2 separate regions of the Homo sapiens genome follow, and region 1 is linked to region 2. The links come from fine-mapping of genetic effects on gene expression. A gene starts in region 2. The other region holds a variant in brackets. All regions are shown on one strand. Distances are between the middles of the regions. Region 1 overlaps KIN (Kin17 DNA and RNA binding protein). Region 2 holds the start of ITIH2 (inter-alpha-trypsin inhibitor heavy chain 2).

Region 1 (11,833 bases), 74 kb before region 2:
AAAGAGCAGATTTTTTGGGTTTTAACTAAATACTTCTATTTAGAGCCCATTTTGATGACCTAAATCAGAATTTATTGCTTTTACATTTTTTGTAGAATGGCTTTAAGTGTCATTGTATGTCCGAATCTCATCAGAGACAACTATTGCTGGCTTCAGAAAATCCTCAGCAGTTTATGGATTATTTTTCAGAGTAAGTAACTCAAAGAACTCTTTATCTTATAGGCTTTATTCAGTTGAACATTTAATAGATGGTTAATATTTTAAATATTGGAAGTTCTATTATTTCTTATATGTTAACTGTATTCTCTCTATGCTCAGTTTTTATCTTCTTTTGAAAATTAATCATAGTATAAAACTGTTACAAAATTATTTCTCACAACTTAGTTTTTCCTTTCTTCCACTTCAGATATACAAAACTGTCTTTCATTCTAATACAATTGTGACAAAGAACATAGGTTCTGCATTCAGACTTCCCAAATTCAAATCCTTCTCCATTTAAAAACTGTATGCCTTTGGATGACCTACTTAAGTTTTTCTGTGGTTTATTCTCCTCATCTCTAAAATGGCACTAAGAAGCCAGGCGAGGTGGCTCACACCTGTAATCCCAGCACTTTGGGAGGCTGAGGCGGGTGGATCACAAGGTCAGGAGTTCAAGACCAGCGTGGCCAAGATGACAAAACCCCGTCTCTACTAAAAATACAAAAATTAGCCGGACATGGTGGTGGGCACCTGTAATCCCAGCGACTCAGGAGGCTGAGGCAGGAGAATTGCTTGAACCGGGGAGGCAGAGGTTGCAGTGAGCCGAGATTGCACCATTGCACTCTAGCCTGGGCGACAGAGCAAGACTCTGTCTAAAAAAAAAAAAAAAATGGCACTAAAAATAGCAACCTCTTCTAAGTATTGCTGATCCTTCATAGAGTTTATATGAAGGTCAATGAATTAACACTTTATGAGTGCTTAGAAGAGTGCCTATATTCAATTCAGATTAGCTGTTCTTATCATTACCATTAATAAACATTTCTTTGCTTCTTACCATCTCTTTCTTTCCAAACTTCTAGACATTTTGGTCCTAGGACCCCTTTATACTTTTAAAAAATATTGAAGACCCCAAGAACTTCTGTTTATGTGGGTTAGATGTATCAACACATGGAAATAAAAACAAGTTTTTTAAAAAAATTGGTTTATAAATTTTTATTATTGTTATTATTATTGAGACGGGAGTTTCGCTCTTGTTGCCCAGGCTGGAGTGCAGTGGCACCATCTTGGCTCGCTGCAACCTCTGCCTCCTGGGTTCAAGCAATTCTCCTGCCTTGGCCTCCCAAGTAGCTGGGATTACAGGCATGCGCCACCACGCTCCGCTAATTTTTTATATTTTTAATAGAGAAAGGGTTTAGGCATGTTGGCCATGCTGGTGTTGAACTCCTGACCTCAGGTGATCCACCCACCTCACCCTCCCAAAGTGCTGGGATTACAGGTGTGAGCCAACATGCCAGGCATTTTTTTTTTTTTTTTTTTTTTTTGACAGGGTCTTGTTTTGTGGCATAGTCATGGCTTACTACAACCTTGACCTCCTGGGCTCAGGCGATCCTCCTGCTTCAGCCTCCCATGTAGCTGGGAACATAGATGCACACCACCACACCTGGCTAATTTTTTGATTCTGTGTGTGTGTGTGTGTGTGTGTGTAGAGACAGGGTCTCACTTTGTTGCCCAGGCTGGTCTTGAACTCCTGGGCTCAAGTGATCCTCCTCTCTCGATCTCCCAAAGTCCTGGGATTACAGGTATGAGCCATCATACCCAGGCCAAACAAAATTATTTAATGCTTTTCTATTGACTGCACAAAACTCAGCCTCTTTCGCATGACATTCGGGGTACTTCAAAAATTAGCCAAACCTTATTTTGGTTTCCCAGCCACCTCGTCTCCCTTATTCTACTCTACCCTCACTCTCACTCTCATTTTTATCAGCCATAAATTTTAGTCAAATTAGGCCATTTCTCAGATCTGTGAGGCTTTCATGTTTCTGTGCCAGCTGGAAATAGCTTTCTCTTGCAGTTCACCTCTAGGGTTCTACTTATCCTTCACTGACCACAATGAAATCACCTCTGGGCATCTCCTGTGACTCTTTCAATGGTATTTTGTTACACTTCTTCTTCAGTTTAACTTTTGTTATGATTGGTTATGCTAGATTGTAACCTCCTTGAAGGTTAAGATTTATGTCTTATTCACCCACGTTTATCTAGCACTTAATACGGTGTACCCAGCTCAGAGGGACATATTAAGTGCCAATTTCATGTGGAATCAGGGCAGTTTTGTTGTCATAGATAGACTGGGGTCATTATGCCACCATCAGTGGCACTAACAGACTTCATGAAGGACCCATTCCAAAGGTATGTGGTAACTGTTTCTATGACTGCTTTACCAAGACAAAAAATTTCAACTCCCAACTGACTTTTAACTTAATCCTTAAAAGCTATAATATTTTGGAGTTCTTTCCTTGATCAGTTTTTAAAGGTTCATAGCCATATTCATGTAGATGTTTCACATATCATTTGGACATTAAAACTATACTACTGGCTAGATGCAGTGGCTCACGCCTGTAGTCCCAGCACCTTGGGAGGCTGAGGCAGGTGGAGATCACCTGAGGTCACGAGTTTGAGACCAGCCTGCCCAACATGGTGAAACCCCATCCCTACGAAAAATACGAAACAAAATTAGCCAGGCGTGGTGGTGGACCCCTGTAATCCTGGCTACTTGGGAGGCTGAGGCAAGAGAATCACTTGAACCTGGGAAGTGGAGGTTGCAATGAGCTGAGATCACACTATTGCACTCCAGCTTGGGTGACGAGAACGAGACTCTGTCTCAAAAAAAACAAAAACAAAAAACTGTACTACTGCTTAAATTTCAAAAAGATGATGCTATATGTTTGTAGAAATTACCTTAATGCTTTCCTTTCTTTCTTTATTAGGGAATTCCGAAATGACTTTCTAGAACTTCTCAGGAGACGCTTTGGTAAACATTTTAAATATTGTGCAAATAACAGCTTTATAAATGGCATAATCTTCTGATGATCATCAGTGTCATATTTTGTTCTCAGGCACTAAAAGGGTCCACAACAACATTGTCTACAACGAATACATCAGCCACCGAGAGCACATCCACATGAATGCCACTCAGTGGGAAACTCTGACTGATTTTACTAAGTGGCTGGGCAGAGAAGGTAAGAATGAGATTTTAAAGTTGCTTTTTCTTTCCCACTTCTAATCTTCATAGGATGAGATGTTTGGGATAAGAAAAGAGAAAAAAAATTGGGTCAGTGTTTTGCTTTTTCATCGTGTTAGTTGATTCCATTTTGGGAGCATAATTTCTGCCTTAAGTTAATAGAACATCATATAACTGTTGGACATTAAATACTTAGATAGAACTGAATAAATACTATGCAAGGTAATACAGTTGTCTCTCAGTATCCGTGGGGGATTGGGTCCAGGACCCCTTGCTGATAACCAAAATTCACAGATACTCAAGTCCCTTATATAAAATAAAATGATGTAGCACTTGCATGTAACCTATATACATCCTCCCACATACTTTAAATCATCTCGAGATTTCTTATAATATTTAATACAATGTAAATAGTTTTTATACTCTATTGTTAGGGAAAAATGGGAAGGAAAAAATGTCTGTGCATGTTCAGTACAGATGCAACCATCCGTTTTTCTTTTTTTGAATATTTCTCACCCACGGTTGGTTGAATTCACATACAGTATCTAAATTTCATTAAATATAAATATGGAAAATCCCATTTGCTGCATGAATTTGTGTATTTGAATGTGTTTTAGTGTATTTGGTGTTTTGTTTTGTTTTGTTTTTGAGACTGAGTCTCGCTCTGTTGCCAGGCTGAAGTGCAGTGGTAGGATCTTGGCTCACTGCAACCTCTGCCTCCTGGGTTCAAGTGATTCTCCTGCCTCAGCCTCCTGAGTAGCTGGGATTACAGGTGTGCACCACCACGCCCAGCTAATTTTTGTATTTTTAGTAGAGATGGGATTCACCATGTTGGCCAGGCTGGTCTTGAGCTCCTGACCTCAAGTGATCCACCTGTGTTGGCCTCCTAAAGTGCTGAGATTACAGGTGTAAGCCACTGCGCTCGGCCTGATTTGTGTGTGTTTGAATGAATAAATATGCAGAGGTGAAACACATTCATATTTATGTTTTGCTTTGATTGTATGCTAATTTATGGCAGTGGCTGTTTTTTTAAGGCTTGTGCAAAGTGGACGAGACACCAAAAGGCTGGTATATTCAGTACATAGACAGGGACCCAGAAACTATCCGCCGGCAACTGGAACTGGAGAAAAAGAAAAAGCAGGACCTTGATGATGAAGAAAAAACTGCCAAATTTATTGAAGAGCAAGTGAGAAGAGGCCTGGAAGGGAAGGAACAGGTGGGTAAGCAACATCATCCTGAGAAGCAACGTCCAGAGGTCTAAAGAAGCACAATGGCTTGGTTTTTCTTTTTTGTTTTTGTTGTTGTTGTTGTTTTGGAGATGGAGTCTTGCTCTGCCGCCCAGGCTGGAGTGCAGTAGCGCAATCTCAGCTCACTGCAACCTCTGCCACCCAGGTTCAAGCAGTTCTCCTGCCTCAGCCTCCTGAGTACCTGGAACTACAGGCGCCCGCCACCACGCCCAGATAATTTTTGTATTGTTAGTAGAGACAGGGTTTCACCATGTTGGTCAGGCCGGTCTCCAACTCCTGACCTCGTGATCCGGCCGCCTCGGCCTCCCAAAGTTACAGGATTACAGGCGTGAGCCACCGTGCCCAGCCAGCTTGTGTCTTTTCAGCGTTGAATCAAGTTCTGTGGGCACTGTTCCTGAACTAAGAGGAGAACCAGCCTGGTGTCAAAAGCACATTTTTGGCATTGACAAACCTTGGTTTGATTCCTGACATACTAACTTCATAATCTTGTATAATTGCATAATATTTCCAAACCTCAATTTCCTTATATCTAAATAGAGACGCTACCTAATGGGAAGACATATACACAGATAATTTCAACTGATTATAATTAATTCAGTACTGGAGGTAAATGCAGCATGTGGAAACATAGAGAAGCAATGTTTACTCTGGCCTGGGGAGGACAGAGTATTTGAGGGTGGATACAACCCCAGTGCCCAGGAGTCTTGAAGAATCAGTGGGTGCAAGCCAGATGAATGGGGAGGGAAGGAGCTGAGGTGTTAGAATAACTAGGTTGGGGCATTTATTTCAACATATATTTATAAGCGCCTCCGCTGTGCCAGGATTCTTGTAGGCACAGGGAATACTCAGTGAACAAAAGATACAGAAAACTGTCTCCTGTGGCTTACATTTTTTTTTTTTTTGGGGGGGGGACGGAGTCTCACTCTGTCGCCCAGGCTGGAGTGCAGTGGCGCGATTTCAGCTGACTGCAACCCCCGCCTCCTGGGTTCAAGCGATTCTCGTGTCTCAGCCTCCCAAGTAGCTGGGACTACAGGCACAAGCCACCATGCCCAGCTAATTTTTTGCATTTTTAGTAGAGACGGGGTTTCACCATGTTGGCCAGGTTGATCTCAAACTCCTGACCTCAGGTGATCCGCCCTTCTGGGCCTCCCAAAATGCTGAGATTACAGGCGTGAGCCACCACGCCCTGCCTCCTGTGGCTTACATTCTAACACTTGTGTGTGAGCAGGCAAATATAGCCTGGTGTGTATGTGAAACTGAGTGTTTTTTGAACTGGTTATTGAGCTTTAACATACATTGATTAAAGTGTATGAGGTGCATTAATCTTAGGTGTACAGTTCACTGAACTTTTACAAATATACGTGTGTAGAAAGAGTGACAGAAAACCTGTGGAACCACCACCCAGATAAAGATATAGAACTTTTCTAGTATCCCAGAGGGTTTCCTCATGCTCGTTGCCAATTAATACCCCATCTCCCAGACATAACCATTGTTCCAGTATACCACGATTGATTATTCATTAGTTTAGTCTGTTCTTGAACAGACTTAAAAAAAAAAAAAGCTTTTGCTTTTCCTAAAGTTTATTGCCTTATATTTTTGTTACTTCCTGTTTAAGTTGTAATAGAAATAAAAATATAGGTAAACTTCTGCAGTTTGGCATAGAAAAGCTGCTTTTTGGTATTTAGAATAATTCTCAATTGGATAATATTTGCAAAGCATGTAAGTTCTATTTTTTTTTTTTTTTTTTTTTTTTGAGAGACTGTCTCTCTCTGTCACCAGGCTAGAATGCAGTGGCATGATTACAGCTCACTGCACCCTTGACCTCTGGTGCTCAAGTGAACCTCTTGCCTCATATGAGTAGCTGGGACTATAGGTGTGCACCACAATGCCTGGCTAATTTTTTTTTTTTTTAATAGAGATGGGGGGCTCTTGCAATGTTGTCCAAGCTGGTCTCGAACTCCTGGCCTCAAGCATTCCTCCTGCCTGAGCTCGACCTCCCAAAGTGCTGGGATTATAGGCATGAGCCACCATGCCCAGCCAAAGCATGTAATTTCTTTTCTTTTTTTTTTTTTTTGAGACAGAGTCTTGCTCTGTCACCCAGGCTGGGGAGGGCAGTGGCATGATCTCGGCTCACTGCAACCTCCGCCTCCCAGGTTCAAGCAATTCTCCTGTCTCAGCCTCCCAAGTAGCTGGGATTACAGGCGCCCGCCACCATGCCGGGCTAATTTTTGTATTTTTAGTAGAGACGGGGTTTCACCAA[G/A]TTGGCCAGGCTCGTCTCGCTCTTTCACCCAGCCTGGAGTGAAGTGGCACGATCTCCGCTCACTGCAGCACTCACCCCCTGGATTCAGACGATTCTCCTGGCTCAGCCTCCTGAGTAGCTGGCATTACAGGCGCCCGCCATCACACCCGGCTAAATTTTTGTATTTTTAGTAGAGACAGGGTTTCACCACGTTGGCCAGGCTCATCTCGAATGCCTGACCTCAGGTGATCCACCTGCCTTGGCCTCGCAAAGTGCTAGGATTACAGGCATGAGCCACCATACTGGGCCAAAATATGTAATTTCTTTTTTTTTTTTTTGAGATGGAGTCTCGTTCTGTCACCCAGGCTGGAGTGCAGTGGCATGATCTTGGCTCACTGCAACCTCTGCCTCCCGGGTTCACGTGATTCTCCTGCCTCAGCCTCCTGAGTAGCTGGGATTACAGGTGCATACCACCATGCTCGGCTAATTTTTTGTGTATTTTTAGCAGAGACAGGGTTTCACTGTGTTGGCCAGACTGGTCTCGAACTACTGACCTCATGATCTGCCCGCCTCGGCCTCCCAAAGTGCTGGGATTACAGGTGTGAGCCACCGCGCCTGGCCGAAAGCATGTAATTTCTTAATTAGGATCTTAATCACTTGCGTATTAGAGCTGCCTGGGAACACAGGTAGCAAGTCATAATTTAGGCCTATTGAATGGTGATAGTAAGTGCAATGTACACCAAAACCTTAAAACTTTCTTTTTTTTAGGAGGTCCCTACTTTTACGGAATTAAGCAGAGAAAATGATGAAGAGAAAGGTAGTTTTATTTTTTATTTTTTCTTTTTTTAAACATAGATGCTTTTATATTGGCTTTGTTAAAAATGCAACTTGTCAACATATCTGAGAATAAGACATCGAATGTGTCTGAGTTACATTGTTCTTATTAATTTAATGAAAAGGTAATACTAATGAATTGATTGGATAGGATAGCTGAAGCCACAAGTAACAAAACTGACTACAATTAACTTAAACAATAAGGAAATATCTTGCCATAATAAGAATCCCAGAGGTAAGGTGGTTCTGCATGCCATCTAGACACAGGGTAGCTGCCAACACTCCAGCCGTCACATGCAGATTCTGCATTGTCGTGAGGATGGCAGAGAGCATCTCTGGATGCTCTTCTAGAATCTTGTTAAGAGCAAGGATACTTTTCCAAGAAGACACTCCTCCCTTCAATAGATTTCCTTTCAAATGTCATTGGCCAGAACTGTGTCACATGTCCACTCAAAAAGCAGTCACTGGGATTATGTTGATTGGATTAGACAATCAGAATTCACCCCAGAGATGAAAATGGTGTTATGTCCCCTGAGCCACAGGCAAGAGGCGTGGAGACCTAAACAGAATTGGAGTACTGTTCCCCAGGGGAAATGGGGATAGAGCAGGGAAGCGCCGGTGTGGTCTGCCACGGTGACACGGTGTGCAAGTTCCTCCTGTTCTATGGCTTTCAGTGTGGGACGTTTTACAGGAATGTGTGGTCTCCGTATAGGAACATTTTAGCTCTCGTTTATTGAAAATGTCCTGGAGTTCCTCTGTGAACACTTTGTAGTATCTTATCTGAGAAGTTTTATTATGATTTTCTTGAAATGTATGTATGGAATAACATTTTTTTCTTCTAGTCACGTTTAATTTGAGTAAAGGAGCATGTAGCTCATCCGGAGCAACATCTTCCAAGTCAAGGTGAGCTGCATCATTCACGGATATCTTAAAACATTAGGATTTTTGTGAAATATTGGTTACTGTATTTTAAAGTATTGTGAATCATTTTTTTCTAGTTGTAGTTTTCACCTGTTTTTGGTTTTTATTGGTTGCGTTGTTTTTTTAGCAATTGTTCTTTTTTTTTTTTTAAGAGATGGGGTCTTGCTATGTTGCCCAGGCTGGCCTCGAACTCCTGGGCTCAAGGTGATCTTCCTGCCTCAGCCTCCCAGGTATCAATAGCTGGGATTACAGGCACGCCCTACTGTGCCCAGCTAGCAACTGTTCTTTTCCTATTTGCCTGTTATGAGATGATTGTGTTTTTTGAGGAAAGCCTCATTTTGATTATATGTTTCACATCAATAAACTTTTGCTTCTCCATGAATCCTTCTCCATTTAACGGTTCCTTATTCGCTATATAAAACTGTTTCTTTTCCTGTCTTAGCCCACTTGTCACAGTTTAAATGTTAGCTGGATCTGCATTTTTCTTTTACTTGCTGCATTGTGAGTTTTCTGAGAATAGAGATTATCAACCTCTCTCCTTCGTCCCCAGTACAGTGTAAATACACCAGGAAACACTCAGTAGTCATTGCCCGCCCTTCTAGGTAGTCTAGCACAGGGCAGGGGTCAGCAAACTTTTTCTGTAAAGAGCCACATAGTAAATATTTTAGGCTTTTCGGCCAGATGTCTTTGTCACAATAACTGAACTCTGCTGTTGTAGTGAGAAGGCAGCCATGGACAGTGCAGGAAGGAACTGAGCATGGCTGGGTTCCAGTACATTTATTTACAAAAGCCGGTGGCAGCTGGCATTTGGCCCTTAGGCTGTCGTTTGCCAAAACCTGGCATAGCATGTGGTCAGGTAGTTCTACCTACTTTCTACATTATCTTCTCTTGCAATTTTTATGTATTCTTTCACCAAATCTTTATTCACTATTTCTGACATGCAGTACATTCAGTTTTGTTATGGAGGTTAAAAAAGATGAGTAAGACAAGAGAGTCAAGTACCAGTATCTACTGGAATTTGCTTTTAAGCCAGATGATATTTTCTATTTTACTTAGTACTTTACATGTTGTTTTTTTAAGATCTAAGTTTTTCGGGTTTGTTTGTAGGTCATTGTTTATTTACACTATTGAATAAGTGGCTAGGAGTATGGAAGGAGATAGGTAGGCTGAATCAGCAATATAGATCAACTTTAAAATGATTTGCCAGATGTCTTAACTTTGATCAAAATAATGTTTCAAAATTAACACCTACATTAGATATCATCAAGAAGTTGGTTATTTGGGTTCTACATCTGGGTACATTCCAGAAGAATTGTCTAACATTGGCATGATATGACCTGGAAGATCGGCTCAAATATAACACACATGCCTTATACTTTTAGAACTTTATGCATTTCTGTCTGTTCTTTTGAAGTATGTGTTATTCCTAGATGTAGATGGATGTTAAAATTGGTTCCAGTGTTCCCCAATTGACCTCCCTTGTATTAGTTTTCTATGGTCGCTGTAACAGATTACCACAAACTGGGTGGCTTAAAACAACAGAAATATGTTGAGGTCATATTCTAGAGGCCAGATTCTGAATCAGTATCACTGGCTTGAAATCAAGGAGCCTGCTGGCTGTGCTCTGGGGAAGAATCTGAGCTCCGGGGAAGAATCTGTCCCTTGCCTTTTCCAGCTCTGTTGGCCGCAGGCGTTACTTGGCTCATGGTTGCATCTCTCCAGTATTTAAGACGAGCATCTTCAAATGTCTCTTTGCCCCATCCTCACATCACCTTTTCCTCCAGGTGTCAAATCTCCCTCCACCTTGCTCTTACAAGAAAAGGGATGATTGTAGTTAGGGTCCACCTTGATAATCCAGGCCAAGCTCCTCATCTCAAGATCTTTAACTTACTCTCATTTGCAAAGACTCTTTTCTTAGATAATGTAACATTGATAGGTTTCAGGGATAAGGACCTGACATTTTTGGGGGTCTATACAGCCTGCTGTACCCCTATGCCAAACCTTGATATTAGCAAAAATATTAGTTTTATTTGACCAATTTTGATAATTTATTTGATAAGTTATCTATGTTAATATGTTGTGACCCGAGTCCATGAATAAGGAACAATATTTGTATAAGAATGTAGTGTCATGGGTAATACAATTGAAAGACATCTAAAATGTTTTTTCTCTGAAATTATGGTACATAATATAGTTTGGGATTCATTCTCCTGTGCATTTATATCTCTTATATATCTAAAACCTAGAAAAACTAAATGATGTGGATATCAAAGTGGACATTTTAGGCTATGTTGAGGCACAAAAATGAGCCCCCTTATTGCTTGAAACAGTTTACTTGATTTTCATCTCCATTTCTCCTTTGGGCTTCTTTATCTCCTTTGAGAAAGGCTAGAATTCACTCTAGTTACTGAAAGCAAAAATGAGGGCTGTTCAAGGAACCTTACTTTCCATTTTCATTCTGCTCATATTCATATCTTGCCTTGATTTTATTTTAACTCTGCCTTACCCCTGTCTCAGTCTCTCACCCTTCTAACAGAATCTTGATATTGCCAGCAAAAGGACCTTTCTAAACTTCAGCTCTTACCGTGTCACTCATTTATTAACATCTCTTGGTTTCAGCATCTCTAAGATGACCTCGAATTTTTTTACATACTATTAAGTGACTTTTGTGATCCTGTATGTCTCCTGCCGTTTGCTCTCAGCTGTGCTCATTGATTTGTGCTTTCCTAAATGAGCCTAGGGTCTCGCCCTTTCTTGCCTTTACATCTGCTGCTCCCCTTCCTGGAATGCCCTTTACATCACCCTGAGATCTTGCTGGGCTCTTCTGATCATCTTTTTCCCCATTATTGTCACATTCTAAGCATTTAATGATGCTGAGTAAATTTTCTTTTTCTTTCTTTCTTTTTTTTTTTTTTTTGAGACGGAATTTCGCTCTTGTTGCCCAGGCTGGAGCGCAGTGGCATGACCTCGGCTCACCACAACCTCTGCCTTCCAAGTTCAAGCGATTCTCCTGCCTCGGCCTCCCAAGTAGCTGGGAGTACAGGCATGCACCACCATGCTCGGCTAATTTTTTTGTATTTTTAGGAGAAACTGGATTTCACCATGTTGGTCAGGCTGGTCTCAAACTCCTGACCTCAAATGATCCACCTGTCTCAGCCTCCCAAAGTGCCGGGATTTCAGGCATGAGCCACCGCGCCCGGCCCAGTTGAGTTTTAAGAAGAGTAAATAATAGCCTTAAATAAACTCAAGTGTCTAAGCTGAGATTAATACCAAAATACTGAAATAATTTATAGATGTATTAATATTTGGGGACTCACTGTTGAGAACCTCTGAGGTATCATGGAGATTGGTAGAGGAGTCAGAAGGCAGAAAAAT
Region 2 (8,000 bases):
CTTCAATGCTGAATTTTAGAAACACTTGCAAACAGTTGGGCAAGGCAGTATTTCGAAAGTCAGGTAAATACTCGGTGATGAAGAAAAAAGAGACACCCAGATTGATTTCCTGGTAATTATTAACAGGAAAATCATTCAATCTGTAACAACATCAAGTCAACTTACCATCATTTCTTCCGATTCTCCTGGAAGGCTTCTCTGTGAAAGGAAGTTAGACAATCATTCTTCAACTGTATGTCACTTATTACCTTGAGAGCCAAAACCGTTTTCTCAGTCAAAAAAGAAATTTTATTTTTCTTCAATACTGAGCTGTTATTCATTCACTGGAGTTGAGACATAAATATTGAATATTCTTGAAAACTATTTTCCCACTGGTGAGTTTCTCAATAAGTTTCTCAACCAGTTCTGGTGGCGTGTGTGTCATTCTTGGATATAATGCTAGAACAAGTAATTTTTAAATAAAAATATTCAACCAAATGCATCCTGGGTAGCGTATATCCCCTTGATGCTATTTGCTCTATTTTTTACTCAGTTGAATGGAGACTTTGATCCTCCATTCGGCCATGAGGCTGTGGGCATGCTGTTCCCACTGTTTGCAGTGCCCCTGCTAGGTTCCTCAACCCCCATATGGAGAACTCCTACTCACCCTTCAGATCTCAGCTCCAGCAGAATTCCTCCAGTGAAAATCTCTAACACCCCAAGACTAGGTCGGTTTCCTTTACTAAGTGTTTTTGCAGCAGCATATTCCTTCCTGCAGAGTGCTCACCTTGTTTCATAATGATTCATTCTATTTGAGGGATTATTTGACTAAAGTCTGTCTCTTCCTTTAAACTAAGCTACATAAAAGCAGGGATTTTCATGTATTTCCTCCACAGTGTAACCCCTGAGGCAAACACAGTGACTGGCACCTAGAAAATTCTATGCTTTTAACCACCATGCTAGGAGATTATCCATACACTTGACTGTCCTGAGGAAATGAACAAAGGCGATTCCCTTGCCTTTGAAAGTGAATGGCTTAAGGGTGGTGGGTGAACATGTAATGTTTGGTGAGCTGTTAATAATAGATCCAAGAAGTCGGGTGTTGGATATAAGCTCAGCTTGCCTGATTCGGGGTGAACTGAGGTTCTGTGCTGTGTGACATGGTGAGGTCAATGGTTGACCTCTTCTTGTAGACTTCTTGAATGCAATGCTCAATGACAAATTTTTCTCTCTTGTGGCTAAATAAATTGTGACATGAAGTCTTGCTTATTGGATTTTAATATTATTAGTCTACAAAAAAAAATCCTGGATTTTCAGAAAGTAAAAAATTCACACCCATACAAAATAAGACATTGATCAGCTTAGGGTTGCTGCTTCCGTAAATACCTCCTCTCTCAGCATGTGGGCTCCGTGGGGAAGAAGCCAAGCCCTTCCTGGTGTTCTGGAAAACTCACCCCCTTAATTAGAGGGTTTTGTCTATACTGCTGCTGGTGGCCGCCAGGATTGCAACTTCCAATGTGGCCAATTCTCCTTCTCAGGTGCCCTCAGAGTGACCAGAGGAAGGAGATTGTGAGGCTGCAAGGGGGAGTGTCTGTCATCGCTAAAATAAGAAAAGTCTTCCTAACAGGAAATCCTTCCGGCAAGGCAGGAAATAATTTCGGAATCTTAAGTTTTGAAGAAAACACATAGCCATGTATTCTTTTTTTTTTTTTTTTTTTTAAATGGAGTGGGGACAGCGTCTCCCTCTGTTGCCCAGGCTGGTGCAATCATAGCTCACTGCAGCCTCGAACTCTTGGGTTCAAGTGATCCTCCATCTCAGCTTCTCAAATAGCTGGGATTACAGGTGCATGCCAGCTAATATATATATTAGCTGGGTGGCAGAGGTAGAGCCTCACTATGTTACCCAGGCTGATCTGGAACTCCTGGCCTCAAGTGATCCTCCCTCCTTGGCCTCTGAAAATGCTGTGATTATAAGTGGGAGCCACTGTGCTGAGTCGTGTACTCTTTAAGGGACTAAATTGAGCATTATGGTGTGAAGGCTGCTGAGCAGTTGTGTGAGTTTCTCTTTTTATTTCACCTGGGTGATCTCTTCCACCAAGGTGTAAGAAGTCTGGACTCTTCTGTGCTAAAAAACAAACTCTTAAGAAAATCTAGCAGAAGGCATCTTAACACTTGTCTTCTTCTGCCATAATCTCTTTCACTTTTTTTCCCCCTTTTGGGAGTAAACCTTACTATACCTGATATCTCCGGTTCTCTGCCACCAATTGAAATTTGCCTGGGGCCAGTTCCACAAGATCTTCATAGTCTACAAACTTAAAAAAAATTAGGATTTTAACTTTTTTTTTTTTAATTATACTGTAAGTTCTGGGGTACATGTGCACAACGTGCAGATTTGTTACATAGGTATACATGTGCCATGTTGGTTTGCTACACCCATTAACTCATCATTTACGTCAGGTATTTCTCCTAATGCTATCCCTCCCCTAGCCCCCCACCCCCTGACAGGCCCCAGTGTGTGATGTTCCCCTTCCTGTGTCCATGTGTTCTCGTTGTTCGACTCCCACTTATGAGTGAGAACATGCGGTGTTGGGTTTTCCCTTCTTGTGTTACTTTGCTGAGAATGATGATTTCCAAAAGATCTAGAGCCAAAGAGATAGCTGTTGGTATTCATTATTTTATATTCTTTCCTCTACCTCTGGGCAATCACAATTTTGTATAAAATGATTTCTTTAGTATATTTCTATTTGCTGGTTACGTCTCAGAGGTGTCCAAATGGAGGGTAACAACACCTTCGCATTTGTTGGACATGGGAATTCATTTTTGAGTTTGCCAGCAGGTGGTAAGACAGAGATCAAAACAACCCAGTGATTAGGTGGGTGTCTGGGGAAGTATCTGGGTAGACCCTGGAGGCATTTGCAGTGTCTGACTGGACAGACATGAACCATACATCTCCCCAAGTTAAAAATGTAGGTATTTTCTAAAAGGAAATGCCAGTTAGAAATGACTGAAAAAGCACAAACACATTTGGATGTCTTGGCTTCAATTTGAGATTTCTAACACACTCTGGTGGCTTTTAAGTGTTGGAAAATATGATAGTTTCAAAGCAGACAGAGTGATATTTTCCCTTTGTAAATATGCCGTCATATTCTCTGGCATTTTTATAGGTAATCCACTCTGCAAGTATTATAAGCCTTTGCATTTGCTGGGATGTTCCCATAACATGCTTCGCTTTTCTGGCATAAAAATAGCTCTTGTATGACTTTCAGAAACAGACTTTCAGTCCAAGACTTTCCTTACATTGGAGATGGCTAAGGGACAAAAGTGGAGACCTGTACTCCATGGGAATTATTCTTGTACTTTTCCACCCTGCCTGCTATCTTCCGCTTTAATAGGAATACTTAAAGTGCTCTTATTACAAATATCACTGTTCACTTAGATATGAAAAACAGTGTGCTTTGATAATGACTTTTCTTATACTCTTAGTAAAAGAGTGATAATATTTCTTCATCATCATAACAGCTAGTAATTATTAAGCACTTACTAGTCCAGGCGCTCTGCTAGAAGAGTTTACACTGTGTCATTTAATTCTCAAAGCAAACCATTGGGTTAGGTCTATTCTTACCCCCAATTTTTTAGGTGAGGAGTGAGCAGCTCTGCTCCATAAATGCTACGCTCTGATGCCTGCCCATTGATCTTGACTTAATTTTCATGCAAAACCTGTTAATGCTTTAAAAGGTAAATATACATTCCAGTAATTATAACAGTAAACACTTGCACTCAGATGAATTTTATCTTAAGTTTCCATTACACACAGAATAAGGCCATTGAATAGCGATTCCAATAGATGATTTACTGAGCTCATGAACAAGCCAACAGCAAGGAGTGATCTGTAAGTACTTACTTCAGAAAGTCCATTTATGGGGATTTCGAAGCCTGATACTTCAGAAAGAAAGAAGCAGATGAAAAAGCACGTGAGTCTTTTCATTTTGCTGGACAGTTTTGCCAAGCTCCCCAAAGCAGATGGTCTGGGGAGGATATCACTTCTTCCTACTGAACCAAGTTCAAAGGAACAGCAGAGGAGTACAGTTCGCTTTAAGAAAGAAGAAAAAAGAAGAAAAAACTCTCTAACTTTGTTCAAAATTGGGACAAATATTTGTTCTGGAGCTCAAACTTGAGCTGTGTGGGTGGATCGAACACCCAGAGGTTATTCAAACAGCAAAGTCAGAAGCAGTTGCTTACTGTGAGGACAAGTCAGGGGCAGATGGATGTGCTTGAATGTGCTTGTGTGCTTTTATTTTATTTTTATTTTTTATTTTTTGGCTTTTGCTGATTTCTATTGATCTTAAAATCAGAGAGACCTACAGATAATTGTCATCCTTTCTAAAGGACCAAGTGCAGAACTATTCCAAGAAACAAAATCCTTTGATCTAAATGAAAGCAGGAAAAATTTAGAAAAAGTGGGAGAAGACACAGAAGGGTTTTTCTGAGCAAAGAATTCATTGTGCATGTTTTCCCCTATCTCTTTGATGACTGTCTACCTGTTACCTATAAAGACCCAGGCAAGTGGCTGTGCAGGATACTAGGGCAGATCTTCAGTGAGAATGCTTCGTGAATGTCTTTGATTAAGGTAACAGTGTCTGTCCTGCTGCCCCTATCAGCCGGGCTCAGGTCAGTGGCAAATCAATACTCCCCAGTCTCAGAATTGGAGTGCAGTGGTGAGATCAAAGCTCATTGCAGCCTCAACTTCCCCCGGCTCAAGCAATCTGCCCACCTCAGCCTCCAGAGTAGCTGGACTACAGGTGTGCACTACACTGCCTGGCTATTTTTTGTAGAGATGGGATTTCATCATGTTGCTCATCCTGGTCTTGAACACCTGGGCTCAAGCTATCTGCTTGCCTCAGCCTCCGAAACTGCTGGGATTCCAGATGTGAGCCCCCATGCCTAGCCTCCATCCTGGTCAGATTCTATTTTTCTTGCAACAAACAGGAAATGTAACTTCTTGGATGCAACACTGAAATAGGAAGCTCCAGCTGTGGGCAGAATTACAATACAAGGGAGGTTGTCTTATCCTCAGGACCAAGCACCCCAGGCCAACTTCTGGGATCCTGGAGCTCCTTGCTACATTTAAAGCCCAATTCACAGGGCATGCAACAGAGAGTTTTCTGCATTTTCCTCCCTAGTTTCCCCTCAGTCTTCGAAATTGCACAGCCGTGTGTCTGCTGGAGAAACATAACTTCTGAAATAATGGAAGGGAGAAAACAGATTCTCCCCTCCCTTGCCTAGGTTGGACTAGTTGAGCGCCCACCTTGGCCAGTGAGTGCCTCAGTGGACCCCTCATGGAAAAATCCTGCCACAGCTTTGCATTCTTGACTGAGATACTGTTTCTGGAGAATTAAGACCCAATGGCAGCTGGGCGCGGTGGCTCACACTTGTAATCCCAGCACTTTGGGAGACTGAGGCGGGTGGATGACCTGAGGTCAGGAGTTTGAGACCAGCCTGGCCAACATAGTGCAACCCCGTCTCTACTAAAAATACAAAAATTAGCCAGGTGTGGTGGCATGCGCCTGTAATCCCAGCTACTTGGGAGGCTGAGGCATGAGAATTGCTTGAACTGGGGAGGCGGAGGTTAGAGTGAGCTGAGATCACGCCACTGCATTCCACCTGGGCAACAGGGCAAGACTTGGTCTCAAAAGAAAAAAATAAATAAATAATAAAAAACCCAATGGCATGTTCTCCCAAAAACAGCAGTGACTTTCAAAATCATACCTCCTTCCATTGATCATTTCCTTTCTGATTATTTTAATCTGATATTCAGAATTATCTCAGAATAAACCAAACCAAAAGCAGGCTGGACTTTTTTCCATGCTGATACTCTGTCTTCAGATCCCAAAGTCCTTTTTTTTTTTTTTTTTTGAGAGGGAGCGTCACTCTGTGGCTCAGACTCAAGCGCAATGGCATGATCTTGGCTTACTGCAACCTCCACCTCCCAGGTTCACGCGATTCCCCTGCCTGAACCTCCCAAGTAGCTGGAATTACGGGCGTGCACCACCACAACTAACTTTGTATTATTTTTTTTAAAGTAAAGATGGGGTTTCACCATATTGGTCAGGCTGGTCTCAAACTCCTGACCTCGAGTAATCCACCTGCCTCAGCCTCCCAAAGTGTTGGGATTATAGGCGTGAGCCACTGTGCTCAGCCTGATCCCAAATTCTTGAAAACAAAACAAAACAAAACAACATTTGCTCTCTCTCTCAATGTTCAGAAGCACGACCGCGTAGGCTGTGTATTCAGGCTACTGAGTCTTGAACCTGAGACCCTTTCCCCTTGCACTCCCCACCCCACTGCCAACCCCTCCCATCATGCCTGGGCAGCTGTGACGTGGTGAATTGAATATATCCACTGATTTCTAGGATGGAAATCACTACCATAAATGCCACAAGAATATTCACTTTCACGTATGTGAAAATCAGTAGGAAATCTACAAGAAAAAAAATCACAATATTTCATAATGTTTGAACAAAGAGATAACATTTAGTACTCATTGGGAACTCTGGGAAATATCAACAAACTTGAGATTCATCACTGAGTGTAAGTCATTGTGGTTTAGCTGACAGTATAACAATAGCTGCCTCACATTTATAGCATTCAGCTCCAGCCCTGTCATTGTGAAAGAGCATGTTTGTAAAAGTCCAAAGTCAAAGCTGGATGAATTCACCAGAAAAATAGCTATATTTGACCCTGACCTGCTTGTTTGGTGGGTCAGGTTGCACATAACATGGAGCAGGTCTGTTTTCTACACATAGTTGAGCTGTGATGGCTTCCTCTGATTGTGAAGACATTTTGTTACATCTTCTTCAAGGATTGTCTGTTTGAATTTCCAAAGATGATATTTGATTACTCTGCTACATTTTTTTGTCCTCTGTAATGCAGAGGTGTGTTTTTTTTGGTTCTGTTTTTTTTTTTTTTTTTAGATGGAGTCTCTCTCTTGCCCAGGCTGGAGTGCAGTGGCACAATCTTGGCTCACTGCAAGCTCCGCCTCCCGGGTTCACGCCATTCTCCTGCCTCAGCTTCCCGAGCAGCTGGGACTACAGGTGCCTGCCACCACGCCTGAATAATTTTTTGTATTTTTAGTAGAGACGGGGTTTCACCATGTTAGCCAGGATGGTTTCGATCTCCTGACCTCGTGGTCCACCCGCCTCAGCCTCCCAAAGTGCTGGGATTACAGGCTTGAGCCACCGCGCCCAGCCTGTTTTAGTTTTTTAATGGAGACAGGGTCTCACTCTATCACCCAGGCTGGAGTGCAGTGATGCAATCATGGCTTACTGCAGCCTCAACCTCCTGGGCTCAAGCAATCCTCCCATCTCAGCCTCCTGAGTAGCTGAAACTACAGGTGCACACCACCACACCCAGCTGATTTTTGTGTGAGCGTATATTTTGTAGATGTGAGGTTTCACCATGTTGCCCAGGCTGGTCTTGAACTCCTGGACTCAAGTAATCCACCCATGTTGGCCTCCCAAAGTGTTGGGATTACATGTGAGCCACTGTGCCTGGCCAGGTGTGGGTTTGTATCATTTGAGGCCAGAACATAAAGATGTTTCAAAAGAAAAATATTTGAAACTGAATAGCAGTATCACAAGCCAAAAATGGGAAGTTAGAGAGCATGGAACGGATTCTCTCATTGGTTCTTAAGCCATGGAAACGTGGCTTTGCTGTTGAGCCATTTCAGTTCTTTCCTATTCTGTGTTCCTTACCTCTGAAGTTCAAATTCAAATCCATTGCCAGAGTAGAGAAATCGAGAGTAGAGTAGACATGTGACCAGCCACGATAGGTCAATTCCAGTGTAGCAGCTTTTGCTGTTCCTCCCAGGGTGTCTGGGTGTTTTCTGGCGAGGAAGGGGTCTCATCTGGAAGTGGTCTCACGATCACACTAAGATCTGGTGCTGGTATTTCAGGTACAGGCTGGGAAGCACCTTCATATGAGTAATTGTGGCTCCCTCCAAGGTGTAAACAGGGCGAAGAGTG

Evidence for each region. PIP is the estimated chance that this variant, and not a neighbour inherited with it, causes the effect. A credible set is the group of variants that fine-mapping cannot tell apart.
Region 1: its variant is the best candidate, but not a certain one, in a credible set for the expression of ITIH2 in cerebellum (GTEx, PIP 0.81).

The regions. Positions count from the first base shown.
Region 1 is chr10:7,771,438-7,783,270 of GRCh38, reverse strand. It overlaps KIN (Kin17 DNA and RNA binding protein), which reads left to right. Exons shown (of 13, transcript NM_012311.4): 2 at 96-190; 3 at 2,964-3,007; 4 at 3,093-3,215; 5 at 4,252-4,433; 6 at 7,472-7,520; 7 at 8,380-8,440. Among named protein-coding and RNA genes, the nearest start is that of KIN, 11 kb to the left of the region's middle. The variant G/A (reference allele first, on the strand shown) is at 6,725.
Region 2 is chr10:7,699,399-7,707,398 of GRCh38, reverse strand. It overlaps ITIH2 (inter-alpha-trypsin inhibitor heavy chain 2), which reads right to left and starts at 4,083. Exons shown (of 21, transcript NM_002216.3): 1 at 3,881-4,083; 2 at 2,217-2,291; 3 at 166-198. The coding sequence starts at 3,964.